Linked DNA regions of Homo sapiens. The protein of the gene in region 2 interacts with the protein of the main gene of each other region in a pairwise test. Each region holds a gene or a part of one and is shown on either strand. Other genes may lie near its edges.

Region 1 (8,170 bases), on a different chromosome or scaffold from region 2:
GCCGAGGCAGGAAAATCACTTGAGCCCAGAAGTTTGAGACCAACCTGGGCAACATGGCGAAACCCTGTCCCCACAAAAAATACAAAAAATTAGCCAGGTGTGGTGGTGCATGCCTACAGTCCCAGCTACTCAGGAGACTGAGGTAGAAGAATTGCTTGAGCTCAGGAGGTCCATGCTGCAGTGAGCCATGACTGTGTCACTGCACTCCGCCTGGGCAATAGAGTAAACTCCTGACTCAGAAAAAAGTAAAGTAAGTATAATTATTATTATTACACCATATTATTATTATAAACACAAGGGTAAATATGAAAAAGTCTTTATCTACAAGAGGGTTACCTACACAAGTAAAAGAGAAGGAATTACCTGACCTTCCACTAGAGGAAGCCAGCCAAAAGGCTTGTGACAAATTTGTCTCTGTGATAACATAGCCATTATCAATATTCATTAAATGAAGTTATGTAAAACCACAGTACACAAATTATATGCAGGTCTTGGCAAATGCTACATATGAACACATACAAGCACATGGATACACACATGTAAACAAAAACACCTATGTGCTATGCTGGACATGGTAGCACATGCCTGTGATGCCAGCTACTCAGGAGGCTGAGGTGGGAGGATCACTTGAGCCCAGGAGTCCAACCTGGGCAACAAAGTGCGACCCCATCTCAGTATTTTTTTAAAAACCCCAAAACAAAAACACATCCATGTGCTGAGCCTAGGCCCTGAAAACTGAGAGTATCAGTTCCTCCCCTACACAGACTTGGCATCTTCACCCCTCTTCTTGGCAATCCCACCAAGCCTGCTCTGGGAGTGGCGCTGTCCTGGCCATCCAAGGAAGTCCTTGTCATCTGCTCTGGGGGGCTGTGAACAAGAGGCAGCAATGCTGTTTTTCCTGGGGAAGGTCTGGCCACCTAGCCCCTGCCTCAGCCCATCCTTGGGGCCTGCCTCAAGGGACAAAGGCTGCACAAAGAACTCAGTGTGTACCCCAACCCCACCCCAGGAATCCTAGCACCCTGGTGCCTTTGCAGGGCAATGACCACAGGCAGTGGAAGCCCAGCCCTTCCCCATGCCCATCTGCCCATCCTTGAGAGCCAAGCTAACACCCACCTCCTGGCAGAGTGGATACTGGTCACTGCCTCACTCAGGCTTGCAGATGGCAAGTGGAAGAGAAACCCAAAGCTGGCCTCCCTTGGGAGTTCAGCGACACTGGCTTCCAGGACAGTCTGGGAATTAATCAGCCAAGGAGCTAGCTCAGCTGGTCCTAGGGAGAACTCCCTTCCCTCCACCACCGCTATAGACGAATGAGACTCAGTTGGATGCTGGGCCCTGTGAGGTGGCCTCAGGCCAGAGTCACAGCACCATGGATACTCCCTATGGTAGAAAAAGGGTCCACAGAGGAAGAGACCACAGGGCATCCTCTGCAAAATCCTCTGCAAAATGACCTGGGGAAGGAAAACAGCCCTGCTGGTGATCTTATATACAGGAGCCTCCAATATGGCTGAGAGGCAAAGGTTTAATTAGGAGCAGCCCGGAGAACTCGGTGGGAGCTGTCCATCCGACGACAGAGAAGCAGGAGAGCTGCAGGCTGAATGGCCCTGGGAATGCTTCCCAGAAAGGATCCACCCGCTGGAATTTGTAAGAACAGCTTGTAGCCCTACAGGGGCCTAGAGTGAAGTGGGCTGGGGTGGGGTGGGAGTGGGTAAGGGCAGGAGCAGGGCACTCACTTCTGCAGCACTGCCTGCCACTCGCCAAGCCGGGCACTGATGGGGAAGCAGTGGACCGTGCCCTGGACCTTGGCACGCCACTCCCGCATGTAGTCCTCAATGTCAAACAGGAAGGGCTGCTGCCCAAAGTTGGCGTCCACAATCTCCCCAGGTGTCTGCAGGCCTACGGTGGGGTAGAGGTTGGCCTGAGGAGGAGAATGAAATGTCAGTCAGGCCCTGAGGGCAGTGGGGTTCTAAGGCCTCACCTCACCTCCATGGCTGCTGCTGGCCCATGCTTGGGCTGGGAGAGTTGCAGCAAGGCTGGAGGAGGCAGGGCGGAGCCACCTCTGTCCACCTCCCTAGCAGAGACATTATGCCCCAAAGCTTGAGGGGAGAAAGCAAAAGAAAAGCAAGCAAGGCACATCATGGAGAGTGTCCTGCCCTGTATCAGAGGCCATTGTGTCCTCAAGGCCCAAGAGCCCTTTCTGGAACTCAGCCAAAGCATACAGAAATGGGCTGGGCTCCACGACCCTTCAGACGTGCCCATGAAGGTCTGCTGCAATAGTGGGTCATGGCTCCTCTTGGAAAGATCCAGGGCCAAGGATCTCTCTGTCTCAAAAAAAATAAGACACATGAGGCTGGGCACAGTGGCTCATGCCTGTAATCCCAGCACTTTGGGAGGCCAATTTAGGAGGATCGCTTGAGCCCAGGTTTTCAAGACCAGTCTGGGCAACAAAGTGAGACCCTGTCTCTACAAAAAATAAAAAGATAAAAATTAGCCAGGTGTGGTGGTATGCACCTGTGGTCCCAGCTACTCGGGAGGCTGAGGTGGGAAGATGGCTTGAGTCCAGGAAATTGAGGCTGCAGTAAGCTGTGATTCTGCCACTGCAACCCAGCCTTGGTGACAAGAGTGAGTCCCTGTCTCAGAAAGAAAAAAAAAAAACAAACCAAAAGATAGATACATGGGGGGTAGGCAGAGATGGGATGACGCAGGAAAGGAGGGAGGAGGGGAACATGGCAAAAGGGAACCGGTGGTCTAGACCCCTGGTGCTGGCAAAGGGTGAAGAGAAGCTACCCTTCCTGTTAGAGGCTCGCTAAGAGGATCTTCTGGCCAGTAGGGTGTGAGGCTCCCTGCTTTCCACCTAGCCTCTACCATGACTGGCTTTTGTTCGGTCCCTCCCTCACTTGGTGGTTCCTGTGGCTCCCCACTGCAACTGTCCAGAGCCTCGCTAGCCTCCTCCCCACTGTCACTGCAGATGGTCTTCCCAGGGCCCTCAGTCCACCCTTCACCTCCGTGCTCAGGCCATGTTCCTTCCTGAGTATCATGCACTTTTTTTTTTTTGAGACGGAGTTTCGCTCTTGTTGCCCAGGCTGGAGTGCAATGGCGCGATTTCAGCTCACCGCAACTTCTACCTCCTGGGTTCAAGCAATTCTCTTGCCTCAGCCTCCTGAGTAGCTGGGATTACAGGCATGCGCCACCACGCCCGGCTAATTTTGTATTTTTAGCAGAGATGGGGTTTCTCCATGTTGGTCAGGCTGGTCTTGAACTCCCAACCTCAGGTGATCTGCCCACCTCAGCCTCCCAAAGTGCTAGGATCACAAGCGTGAGCCAGCGCGCCTGGCCAACCATGCATTTTTGTACCTGCACAAGGTATGGGACCTTTTCCTGTATGCTGGCTTCAGCCCACCATGGGCTCTGCACACAGAGGACCTCTCGCTTCCTTTCTTTCCCCTACCATCCTCCACCACAGGCAAGGCCCGCCTCCTCCAGCAAGCCTTCCTGACCGTCACTGCCTACCATGTCTTTCCCCCATACCTTCTTGCATGTGGCTGCATACTGGCCATGCTCATGCCTGGTCATTTCATGTCACGTCCCCATAACTAGACCCTTCCCTAGCCAGGGTCAGCATTCTCCACCTGATTCTGTTCTCTTTGCCTAGGACCACAGCCCCTCTCTGGGGCTTCCAGGTAAGAGGGAAGGATTCTGAGCCATGGACTGGAGGTTTTAACAGGACCCTGGGTGCTATGGTCTGGGCTTCAGAGGCCCATAAGATCACAAAGGCATTTCCTGGGGCATCACTGGGGTGTTTGGGATCCCAAAGCAGCCACCAGAGTCAGCAAACCTTCCTTCCTTCCAGAACCTAACCAGAACACACAGAGCCAGGCCAGGCTCCCAGCATCCTGGGTGGAGGCCCTGCATGTGATTAGGCCTGTGATGACTCATAATAGAGACTGGAGTACAGGTGCGGGATGGCTGGAGGTGAGGATATGCCCTGAACTAAGCAAGCAGAAAACTCCATCCTTTTCTGTTTTTTTTTTTTTTTGAACTAAGCAAGCAGAAAACTCCATCCTTTTCTTTTTTTTTTTTTTTTTTTTTTTTTTGAGACGGAGGCTCGCTCTGTCGCCCAGGCTGAAGTGCAGTGGTGCGATCTCAGCTCACTGCAAACTCTGCCTCCCGGGTTCAGGCCATTCTCCTGCCTCAGCCTCCCGAGGAGCTGGGACTACAGGCGCCTGCAACCAGGCCCGGCTAACTTTTTTTGTATTTTTAGTAGAGACAGGGTTTCACCCTGTTAGCCAGGACGATCTTGATCTCCTGACCTCGTGATTTGCCCACCTCGGCCTCCCAAAGTGCTGGGATTACAGGTGTGAGCCACCGCACCCGGCCAGAAAACTCCATCCTTTTCTAAGAAGAGAAGACCCCACAAAGCTCACCTCTCTGGCTTGGGGGTGCCCTAGATAGTAGCAGATGAGTTCCCCTAGGGCACTAACTTTCCTCAGGGATCTCTGATGGGTATGTACAAGGACTAGGTTCCCTCACAGTTCAGGAACAATTCCCTACACTCTGCACCCCAGCTGACACACAGCTGGTTTAGACCAGTTGAGCCATGGAGCTATCTTCATTCCACCACCCTACCCGCCCCAGCCCCACAGCTGCCTTTGGAAGTGCCACAAATTACTGTCACCTGCTAAGAGTCGTAGGAAGACCAGACCTTACTGCTGGAGAGAGAGGAAGGCCAGCAAGTGCCCCTCCTGGTACCCTCAAGCTGACAGCATGGCACACATCCCTGGTTGGGGAAAGAACCAGACTCCACACCCTGCACTTGCAGGTACCACCGTGCCCCATCCCAGTCAGCCCCCAGAAACCCAGGAGGGGAAGACTCAATAGTAGTACTCACCGGGAGGTCTGTGAAGGCTATACCTGTGGGGGGAAAGGAACAGTCATCAGGGCCAGCCCCTGGGGCTACTCTGCCTCTGCACCCCATGGTGGAGCCAGTGCTAGGGCCGGGTAGTTGTTTTTTTTGGTTTGTTGTTGTTGTTTTGAGACAGAGTCTCCCTCCGTAGCCCAGGCTGGAGTGCAGTGGTACGATCTTGGCTCACTGCAACCTCTGCCTCCTGGTTCAAGCAATTCTCTGGCCTCAGCCTCCCCAGTAGCTGAGATTACAGGTGCCCACCACCACGCCTGGCTAATTTTTGTATTTTTAGTAGAGACAGGGTTTCACCATGTTGGCCAGGCTGGTCTTGAACCCCTGACCTCAAGTGATCTGCCCGCCTCAGCCTCCCAAAGTGCTAGGATTACAGGCATGAGCTACTGTGTCCAGCTGGGAAGGTTTTTTTGTTTTTGTTTTTGTTTTTTGAGATGCAGTCTCACTCTGTCGCCCAGGCTGGAGTGCAGTGGTGCGATCTCGGCTCACTGCAAGCTCTGCCTCCCCGGTTCACGCCATTCTCCTACCTCAGCCTCCCGAGTAGCTGGGAATACAGGCGCCCACCACCACGCCAGGCCAATTTTTTCTATTTTTAGTAGAGACGGGGTTTCACCATGTTAGCCAGGATGGTCTCGATCTCCTGACCTTGTGGTCTGCCCACCTCAGCTTCCCAAAGTGCTGGGATTACAGGCGTGAGCCACTGAGCCCGGCCCCGGGCTAGGTAGTTTTAATTAGACCATGGCCTTCTCTTCACTGGCGGCCTGGCCAGAAGTGAAATCAGATGCTTAGGCAGGTGCATAGCTCCTCCACCCGCAAAGAAAGCCTGCTAAGGGGAACTAAATCCAAAAGATCTATCCCCTGCGGCCCTTCAGACCTGATACTTCTCTTGATTTAACACATATTTATGGAAACTTATTGTGCATGCCAGATCCTTTTTTGGAGAAGGGCCTCACTCTGTCGCCCAGGCTGGAGTGCAGTAGCACAATCTTGGCTCACTTCAACCTCTGCTTCCCGAGTTCAAGCAATTCTCCTGCCTCAGCCTCCCGAGTAGCTGGGACTACAGGCACATACCACCATGCCCGGCTAATATATATTTTTGTATTTTTGGTAGAGACAGGGTTTCACCATGTTGGCCAGGCTGGTCTTGAACTCCTGACCTCAAGTGATCTGCCCACCTCGGCCTCCCAAAGTGCTGGGATTACAGGTGTGAGCTACCGCACCTCGCCCCTTTTCCATCCATTACTTCATCTGATCCTCACACCAACTCTGGGAAGCAGGCTTATTGCATTTTACAAAGGAGAAAAATAAGCCTCAGAGGTTCGACAATTTGCCAGTAGTCATAAAGCTAGCAAAGGTGGTGGGGCTGGATTTGTTCCTAGTCCAATGCTTCAATGTCATCCCCAAGCTGACAGAGAAGTGGAAACAGGGAGGGTGGCAGCTGCCTATCTCCAGTCCATACGCAGTCAGAGTCCTCAGAGGTTCCAAGCTGGCAAAGTTCAGGTTAACAATGGCCTGTGTGGAAGGATCTCTTGAGAACAGAAGTTCAAGACCAGCATGGGCAACATAGCGAGGCTCCGTCTCTACAAAATATATAAAATTAGCTGTGGTCCCAGCGACTTGGGAGGCTGAGGCAGGAGGACCACTTGAGCCCTGCAGGTTGAGGCTGCAGTGAGCTAGTATGATTGTGCCACTGGGTTCCAGCTTGGGTGCCAGAGCAAGACCCTGTCCCAAAAAAACAAAAACAAAAAACAGCCTGTCAAAAACCCTCCTGCCAAGAGAAGTGGCTGCATTTCTAGGGACCTCAGCTCTGAATTGGAAGTGAGGGTAGAGGGGAGTGGGACCACAACTATATAAGCAGGCTACCAGAGCACCCATGTTCTTCAAACTGAGAAATGACAAATGACTCAGGACCAGTGGAGGCTCTCCAAGGACTCAAAGCCCTCTCATTTTTTAGATAAAGTCTTTTTTTTTTTTGAGACGGAGTCTAGTTCTGTCGCCCAGGCTGGAGTGCAGTGGCGTGATCTCGGCTCACTGCAAGCTCCGCCTCCCAGGTTCACACTTTTTTTTTTTTTTTTTTCCCTGAGACGGAGTCTTGCTCTGTCCCCTAGGCTGGAATGCAGTGGTGTGATCTCAGCTCACTGCAAGCTCCGCCTCCCGGGTTCACGCCATTCTCCCGCCTCAGCCTCCCAAGTAGCTGGGACTACAAGTGCCCGCCATCATGCCCAGCTAATTTTTTTTTGTATTTTTAGTGGAGACGGGGTTTCACCGTGTTAGCCAGATGGTCTCGATCTCCTGACCTCATGATCTGCCTGTCTCAGCCTCCCAAAGTGCTGGGATTACAGTCGTGAGCCATCATGCCCGGCAGATAAAGTCTTATATCTCCCAGAAGCTCCTGAGCTTTTGGCCTTTGAGGTTTTCAAACTGCTGATTCCTTAGAGATCTCCAGTCTGCTATCCAACCCCTGCCCAGAAAAGAAACTGAAGCCCTGCAAAATAGAACAGGGTCTATTCTATTTTGGGTCTGACAACAGGTCTCCCAGAAACCTGGCCGGAATCATGCCAGCCAGCACATACCACATGCTTCCTCTATGCTGGGCACTGGACTGAGTGTCTTATAAGGCACTATTCAATCCTCAGAACAACCTTGGAAGATGTATACTACCTCTGACACTAGTTCACATATGAAAAAACCAAGATGCAGAGAGATGGTTTATATTCTTTGTTCGGCTATTTTGTTTGCTTCTCACTGAGGGACGCTCATAAGCCGCATGGTCTGCCTGTCTGAAGCCACTTTTGGGCCCCACATGCACAGTCGGCATGACTCTGGCATGCTGGCAGGACTGAATCTGGAAATCTCTCTGTACCCAGGAGAAGACCCCAATGTCCACCCTCCAGGCCTGCCCCGGAGCTGCCCTCATGGATCTCAGCATGGCCAGGATATTGCTTACTCCAGGGCTCATGGAGGAGTCCCCAAGAAGCCTGGAAAAAGGGAGTCCAAGCTCCGTAAATTATATATAGTGTGACCTTTGGCAAGTAACCCAACCTCTCTGAGCTCATCTGAAAAAAAGAGATAATATCGATATCTCGACTTCAAGGAAAAAGGGAGAAAATGAGACATTCTGTGAAAGCTACTTCATGAACCCTAAGGTCTAGGTATAAGTCAGCTGTGGTAATGCCACAGGGTGAGGCAACTGCCACACTTTTGGTCAGGGGATGACCTACCCAGGCTTGCCCAACTCTGCCTCACAATGGCACCCAG
Region 2 (8,170 bases):
CTCCCCCAGTGGGACTTAAACAAAATTTTAAGGCAGTATGTTGTCTGGAAGGTTGTTAAGACTAAGATGAGAAGTTGTTAATGGAAGCAGTATAAAAGTACGATCTAGAGAAGGTTGTTGAAAGGGTGGCAATGTTTGCATGGATGTGTTCCCTCACCAGCAACAGGGATTGGCCCTGGGCCACCAGCCCTCCTCCCCACCGAATGTACTGTCCTCCAATGTGAGACCCGGGTTCTGCCTCTGCCATGAAGAAAGCTCGACTGGATCTTTTAAGGCTCTGAGCAGCCACATTCCAAAAATAAGAAGGAGAGGAAGGGAGAGCCCAAAAGAACAGAATGGAAAACTTGAATTCTGTCTTCATTCTTGTAGTCACACCTCCTCCGCCCAGAGCAGTGAGTAACCAGCGATGATCCCAGGGAGGCCTGACCTCTGGGAGGGGAAGTCAGTCATGCTGAGAAGTAACCAGCCATCAGCTCAAACAACCTCGGAGTGGTGAATTCTGCCTTAATATTTCCTGGCATCTAGGAAATGTGATTCTAGAGGAAAAAAATACCACCCAGTGATGCCACACTCTCATACTTACTCTGCTCACAGTGCCGTCCCATGAATCCAGTGCGGCAAGTACACTGCCCAGAAATGTGGTCGCAGTCAGCTCCGTTTTGACATTGGCATATCAGTGCACAATCTTTTCCATAAAACCCTAGAGGACATCCTGTGGGAGGAGGGAGGACAGTAGGAGTCAAGAGGCTGCTGAAGAGAAACACTTGGAGGCTCGTGCCTCCAACATATTTGTGTTTAAACTTGAATGACACTGAGCCATCAGAGAATACAGTGAATAGTACATATCTGAGCTTGCCACAAGAGCTTCTTTGAAGTCCCAAGACAGGGCTCTTGCAAGGAGGTTGTAATTCATAAGCAGGAGGCAGAAGAGTTCCATTCCTGTCAGTGTAACCATCACTGGTACCCCTGGAGGCAAGACTAGTGCCTTCTAACAAAATATCCCTTCAATCCTGGAAGAATAGGACATTTCCTTTCATTCTTTCACATTTCTACTAGAATCCTGGACTCAAATTCCAATGGACTGAGACGGGTACTTTATATTAAAATTACCTGTATGCTTTTACTTGTAGTACAGAACATCTCTATTGTTGCTACTAGCCTTGTCCACTGTATCTGTTATTATCTTAGATAATATCAACTTCCCTGAAGAGGTGTACTAGAATGCTTACCTTAAAAAACAATTGTACTTCACAGGTGCTTTGTAAAAAGCAATAACCCTTCACACTGCTGCATGATTTTCAATGCTTAGACCGGCGAGTCTCTTGAGCTAAAGACACCCACAAATTCTGTTGGCTTACATGGGCTGGCAGCTGCCCTGCAAGAGTGTCTTGGGGATCTCTGGCGTGATGAAAGATTCAATGCAGGCTGATTCAATGATTGTTTCCAAATATTACATATGCTTTTCATTTTCTCATTTTCTTATGGAACTTTCAAGAAGCAGAGGCAGTGCCCAGATGCCAGTATGCACCGATGACTCCCTGCTGTCATGCATTTATTTAGCACCTACTCTGTGCCAGATTCTTTTCATGCGTTCTCTTGTTTAATCTTTACAGCAGGCCAGAAATGCAGGGATGGATATTCCCGTCTTGTAGACAGGAACTAAGCCCCAAGTACCCTAAGTCACACAGCTGGCAACTGGCAGGACGGCAGGGCCATGATTCAAACACAGGGAGGTCTGGCTCTGGACCCCATGTTGTTCCCACTATATCATGTTACTTGCACTTGAAAAAGGGTTCTCTCTTTGAAGCACGTTCTAATTTTAGAATTATAAATAATATCTTACAAGTACCTTTCTCTAAGAAGTTAAACAATATTTATAGATATACGAACTCTGAAGAATATGCTTGGGCCAGCTACCTTCCTTGCCAATTATCCTTTTCAACTCTTGGTTCAAGGTCTACATTATCTTCTAGAAAGTTTCTAAGACTTTTTCAGCCTATTCTTTAATTATGTACTCTAATTAGTATTAAATAAGAATTGCTCAATTTCAGACCCATCTGTCCTCCTCAGCTTCTTGCTATTATTTTAAAATATACGCTATTATTAGTACTTAACCATAACACATGCCTTCCTTTCTTGTCTCCTTTATTCAACCGAAGGTAAGAGGTCAGAGAATGATCTTCCTTCCCCAATGATGCTCAGCTTTGGAGTAAGTACTTTGCACACTATATCCTATCATGCTAAAAGCCTAATGGAAGAAAAAATGGTTAGGATGCTATGAATTACAAAATGGGGAAAAGAACTAGGGCAGTGGCTCTCAAAGCATGGTCCCAGCCTGGCATTACTACCAGTTGATAAAAATGGCAATTCTCAGGTGCCAGCCCAGACTCGCTGCTTCCGGCTTTCTGGGGATGGAACTAGCTTCTGTGTTTGTTGTGTCCTCCAGGTGATTCTGAAGCTTGCTACCATTCGAAAAACACGGAACTCCACCTTTTCCAAGAGCGCACATTAAATCAGGCAGTGAGGCTTGTTGTCTTCTCTACCTTTCTAATCTCTATACTTATCCTAACTTTTGTGCTGTTAAAGGATTGAGAATTTGATCCATATAAATATGATTTGGTTAAAGGAGAGAAGAGAAATAAACTGCATACCATCACACAGCATTGCTCTACCTCAGTGGAGATAGAACCTAGAGACAGAATACTTGGAATGAAGTAGCTCTTAATCACTTAGAGAAATTTATATGTCTACAGGTCATTAGGAGAGGGAAGTACTCCAACCTCAGGGACCTTTGTTGAGCTCCAGTCACGCATGCGGAGGGTAAGGCTGTTTCCTCCTTGGACAAGGCTCCCCTTGGTGAGCCTCAGAAGGCTTGTCACTTACTCTGAGTGCAGTAGAGCCCTGTCCAGCCAGGAGTGCATTTACATTCCCCATCGTAGGCGCTGCAGAAAGCTCCATTATGGCAGTTGCACGTGTGGATGCAGTTTGGGCCCCAGTGGGCAGGTGGACATGCTGAAATTACAGGTATGGAGAAGTCCATCAGAGTTCTGAGGCCAATACTAAGTAGGGAGAATTCCATCCACCTCTACACATCTCCCTGCATGTGAGAGGTTAGCAGTGTACATCAGGACTAAGAAAGCACACTGCTCTGAATTCTGCACTAAATCCCAGATGGCCATGGCAACTTCAACAACGACTGTCATTATTGACATATGTATTCATTTACAACTGCAGAGTGAGGTGGCTGGGGCAAAAATCACCTCAAGTTTACAGATTCAGTTATTAAACAAACACATATTCAACACCTATTATGTACCCAACACTGTTCCAGGCCCAAGGGAGATAGCAGAGTATAAGACAAAGTCCAAACCATCCTCTGGAAGCTTCTATTTTGGTAGGGGAGGCAGGCAAACCAACCAACCAACCAACAAAATGAAAAATCAATGGTGGTAGGTATTATGAAAAAACATAAGGAGGATAAGGAAGACAATAATTTTGGGAGCTACTCCTCTGAGGAAGGCCTCTGTGAGGAGAGGACATTTGAGCAGAGATAAGGTGTGGAAAATGACTTGACTCAAGAGAGGTTAAAGGACCCAAGGCCATGTAGCTCATGTTCACAATTTCTAAATCCTGTACCCTTCAGTCTACTCTAGAGTTGCCACTTCAGGCTCCTTTTAAATATTGAGGTTCCCAGCGGTATGTAAAAATTGGTTTCCTTGTAAAAACTCTTAACTGGAAGATCCAGAAAATAATACAATTAAATCATTAGGGGTCACTGCCGATTGAAGAGACATCAGAAAGTCAGATAAAGTATCTGTGAAATAATAGCATAAGATCAGGGGGTAAAATAATTTCATTGACAAAAAATACTTTTTATTCATATTAATACTTTAGGAACATAATTGCATAAAAGGAGGACCACCTGTAATTTCTATACGGCTACCCCATAGGGAATGTGGACCTATAAAGACAATCAATAATACATATGAAGTAACTTTTTAAATGAAAAAAATTCTTCCATAATTGTGTGCACCATGTCCAAGAGCAAGGGGAAAATACTAGCTGACACTTGAGGTCTCGAGTGAGCATTGGAACAAATTTTCTAAATACAACACCTTAATTTTACAGATGAAGAAACTGAGCACACAAAAGGTTAATAGTGACTCGTACAAGGTCACATAGATTAATAATAATATTTGTTATTTGTTAGACAAATACAGCTTTCCCAAAGCCACAGTGAGACTCAGTGAAAACTGTTGAAGCGTCTAGCCCATTTGATGCTCAGTGAAGCACTCTTTACCTAAAACAACCTATTCCTTAGATGATATTTAACCAGCTTCTGTAAACCCATTTATGTTCACAATATATTTTTCTGAGGTAACCCACTGCCATTAGGTTTTTCTCCCTATATTTGTTATGATCAGAGAATGGGAATAAGCATCACTCAACTTTATATTCCCAAAAGGTAAACGTAGAGATAGTGCTTTAAAAAATCATTTTCCCAAGGACACCTGCCCCTTTAAATGTACCCCTTTAAGTTTTCAAAGTCTGTGTTTTCACTGTGAAGGACTTTGCTCTCTTTAGACAGGCTCACAATCAGCTAAGAAGAAATATGAAGATGGTTCCACAGAGTCCATAAGGGAATCAATGAAATCAATGATCCCCAGGAGAAGCAAAGGCTTTTGCCAAATAAGTCAGCTTCCTGTGGAGTGATTATTGGGACAGGCAACACTATAGTCTCCATTCATAGTTGTGTTTCTATTTTTATTCCTTTCAGCACATTCCTCCTCCAAATGAGGAAGGGACAAATTTCCAAAATAAAGACTACTTTTTAAAGGAGCAATATAAATCAATCATTTTGTGACAATGATATTGGACCTTTTACTCTTCCCAAACCCATACGCCCAACCATCAGTCAGAGCCCTTGCAACACATGTAGATTTAAACAGACTGATTTCTTCTGAAGTGATGCCCCCAGAATGGAGTGAAATCATATCGCATAACACTTCTTTCACCAAAGAGCTACACTTCTGAGATTTATTAGCTCTCTTCCCTTATTCCTAAAAAATGGGGTACAGCCTGGACTACTTATGGAAAAAATTAACATTCAGAAAAAAATCTTCCAGCAAAAAATATATTGCTCATCAATTAGTATTTGCAGGTTGCTTGTAACTGTGAAGTTTGAATTAAATTATCAATAAAGCACCATGTAAAATGACTGCACACAGTCATTCTTTGATTTCTCTTATGTGCATGATGGGGGAATTCAATATAAACTGAGAGTGTTTCATAAAATTTAAAATGAATGAAACCAGATTACTCCATACATATGCTATTTTTTGGTCAAAAGTTGAATACTTTTAGACATTGCACTGACCCTTTCAAAACATTCATGAATGACTTATAGTCGATGTCATTTTTTTCATGACATGGGTGCTCTAAGAGTCATCTATATAGTCCCTTATAGGGTCACACAATTCCTGTCTGAAATCCAGTGGTGTGGAAGGCACTTGGGTGATGCCAAGGTGAAGCTAAGCATATTAGGTGGGCAGTTCGCTCAGGTTCCCAATAGGTTTCTAAGGCTCACATCATTTAATTCCATTTTTTCTTTCTCTGTAATTAACTCTCCAGATAAACACAAAATGAAGAGATAGATTTCTCAATACAGCTGTTTTTGCTTTATTTCAATGGACGATGAATCACTGAAAAGGGGATAAGGAAAATGTTACATATTTAGGTTCTTTCCAAGACATTATTTGGATTTAAACATAGGACCATTGCATAGAGGTCGTAATGGGAAAAAAAAAAAGAATTTTAAAAAAAGAATTTAAAGTAGAATGTGTCTTTTAATTAGTCATATATTCTTTCTTGATTATATAAAAACACTCATACTTCAATCCTAAAGAATCTGAAAACAAACAAATAAGAACAGTTTATTAATTGTTCTCAAACAAGACTTACGTTGAGAGCAGTCACTGCCAATCCAACCGGGGTAACACTGACAAGATCTGTCAATGGGGTTACAGGTTCCGTTGTTGGTGCAGGTACAAATTCCTGCACAGTTTTTCCCAAATCTGCCACTGGGACACACTGTGAATAAGCTATAGGTCAGTAACTCACAATCAAAACCCCTCTCGCAGAACCCTAGAATCTTAGCACAGGAAATAACTTTAAAGGTCACAGGCCCAGCTGCTCATTGGTAGCTATCTCTGCTCAACAGCATCCTTCATCTTGAATGGGCTCATTTTTACAAATCCATGAAGCCAAAGATTTGCATTAAGGCATCACAAACCAGGGGACATCATTGCACTTCTAGAAATATGACTTCACGACTTCTTGCTCTGGGAGTCTAAAATTCTTCCGCATATTGATTTTTTATGGGAGGACATGTCCAGCTAAAACTGAAGAGTAGCACATCTCAGGAAATAAAAAGGTTTTGCTGGAGTGGCAAGCCAGCTTTTCCAAAGCTCAAAGTCCTATCTGAGAAGCTGCAGACACAGCACAGCAGAAGACATTCCCAGCAGACAGCTGAAAACATGGCCTTCAGGAAGGCCAAGGGGAGGCCTGAGGACAGACTCTCCGGGGCGTGCTCATCACCACCCAGCTGTCCGGGATGCTTCGTGCCTTACCTTCATTGCAGAGGGCGCCTGTGAAGCCAGGCAAGCAGTCACACAGGCCGGTGATGTGGTGGCAGGGCCCGCTGCTGTGAACGCACTGTGGGCATGTCTGGCTGCAGCGATGCCCATAAAAACCAGGGGAGCAGACTGAAAACAGAAGGGAAATCAGCAGTTATCCTTCTGAGATGCGTTTGTCTCGCATTCCAGATCGGGATCTAGTTAAAGTTTTAGAGGTTAAAAAGCAAAACCTTAAAAAAAAGTAAAAAAGATACGGAGAATTTTCCAAGTAGAAAACAAGAACAACAAAGGAACAAAGGAACCCTTTAATGAGGAAAAGAAGCCACTAAACTCTGAGTTTCTTGAGAGCAAGCAAATGTCTTAGTCTTCTTTATTTTCCCATTTAAGGCCCCAGTTAGCTCAAGTCTTGGCATAAAGCAGGGCTCCAGGAATTTTCATTGAATAAATAAAGAGATAAAAAAATTGAAATACTAATAAGTCTCAAATAAGTACTCTCAAACCATTTGTTGATTCTTTATTCTTTAAGAGTCGTTTCTGGCAATAAAAATCGATCAACAGTCAAAATTTGAAGATTTTTCCTCCTCAAAATGGTCCAGGTTAATGACTGTAATCGAAAAGTGATTAACCAAAATGCTATATACTTAAGTTCTTGCCAAGATACTATTCAGATTTAAATATATGATAACTGCATAGAATTCTTATGGGGGGAAAGGCAATTTAAAAAATTAGAATAGTATAACTTATAATTAGTTACATATTCTTTTTTGATTGCATTTACTAAAAGATTACTTAATCTTCTAACTCAGAAGTCTTAAGGACCAATGTCAACAGTCTCCTTTTTCAACTTTGCAATTCCATTTTCCCCATAGCACTGATTTTAAGACTACTAGCAGGATGAATGATTTGCCTCAAGGTTTGGCTGATGTTGACGTCTGGTAATTGAGGTAAGGCCAATGCCAAACTGCTGAATAACATATTTACAGGTCAGTGAATTTCTAGAACACCATTCCAAAGCTTTCAGGAAGGGTGAAGAAATATATCCTGATGGTTGTGCCAATGAGGCAATGAAGTAATTATTGAGAAGAAATGGTTAAATCCCCATCTGTTAGGTTAGTTCTGAAGGCTGGAAAGAATGAAGCTCTTAGGGAACACAGTTCTGCAAAGGACAAGTGAACCATTACACTCTCTTTTGCCTTCAACTGCAACAGGACATCACTATAAACTGAGAGGTGGGACAGAGATCATTATTCGATACATGGTGCCCAGGGAAGGGAAGGTGGAAATTACTGCCTAATGAGACACTTACTCCTCTGACAAGTGGTGCCTCGGAAGCCTGGTGCACACTCGCAGATGCCATCATCAGGGGAGCATGAAGCCCCATTTTTACAGTAGCAGGGCAGGGAGCAGTTGGGGCCCCAGCGTCCCTCAGCACACACGCTGTCACAGTGGACACCTGAAATAATGCACATGGGGCAAGGCTGAGTGAGAGGCAGTGCGGAGTTTCCGCAGATGCTAATTCATAGATGAGGACTAAG

The links. Proteins that work in one complex are often made in the same cells at the same time.
Region 1: the proteins of MEGF10 (region 2) and RANBP10 interact in a two-hybrid assay, tested with the Homo sapiens proteins (one study listed by BioGRID and IntAct).

Annotation. Positions count from the first base shown.
Region 1 is NC_000016.10:67,733,128-67,741,297, forward strand, and holds part of RANBP10 (ran-binding protein 10), read right to left. Parts: intron 4,909-8,170; coding exon 4,886-4,908; intron 1,916-4,885; coding exon 1,731-1,915; intron 1,673-1,730; exon of another isoform or gene 1,422-1,672; coding exon of another isoform or gene 1,114-1,421; intron 1-1,113. UniProt on the Homo sapiens protein: May act as an adapter protein to couple membrane receptors to intracellular signaling pathways.
Region 2 is NC_000005.10:127,433,281-127,441,450, reverse strand, and holds part of MEGF10 (multiple epidermal growth factor-like domains protein 10 isoform a precursor), read right to left. Parts: intron 8,089-8,170; coding exon 7,942-8,088; intron 6,765-7,941; coding exon 6,630-6,764; intron 6,091-6,629; coding exon 5,962-6,090; intron 3,013-5,961; coding exon 2,884-3,012; intron 713-2,883; coding exon 584-712; intron 1-583. UniProt on the Homo sapiens protein: Membrane receptor involved in phagocytosis by macrophages and astrocytes of apoptotic cells. Receptor for C1q, an eat-me signal, that binds phosphatidylserine expressed on the surface of apoptotic cells. Cooperates with ABCA1 within the process of engulfment.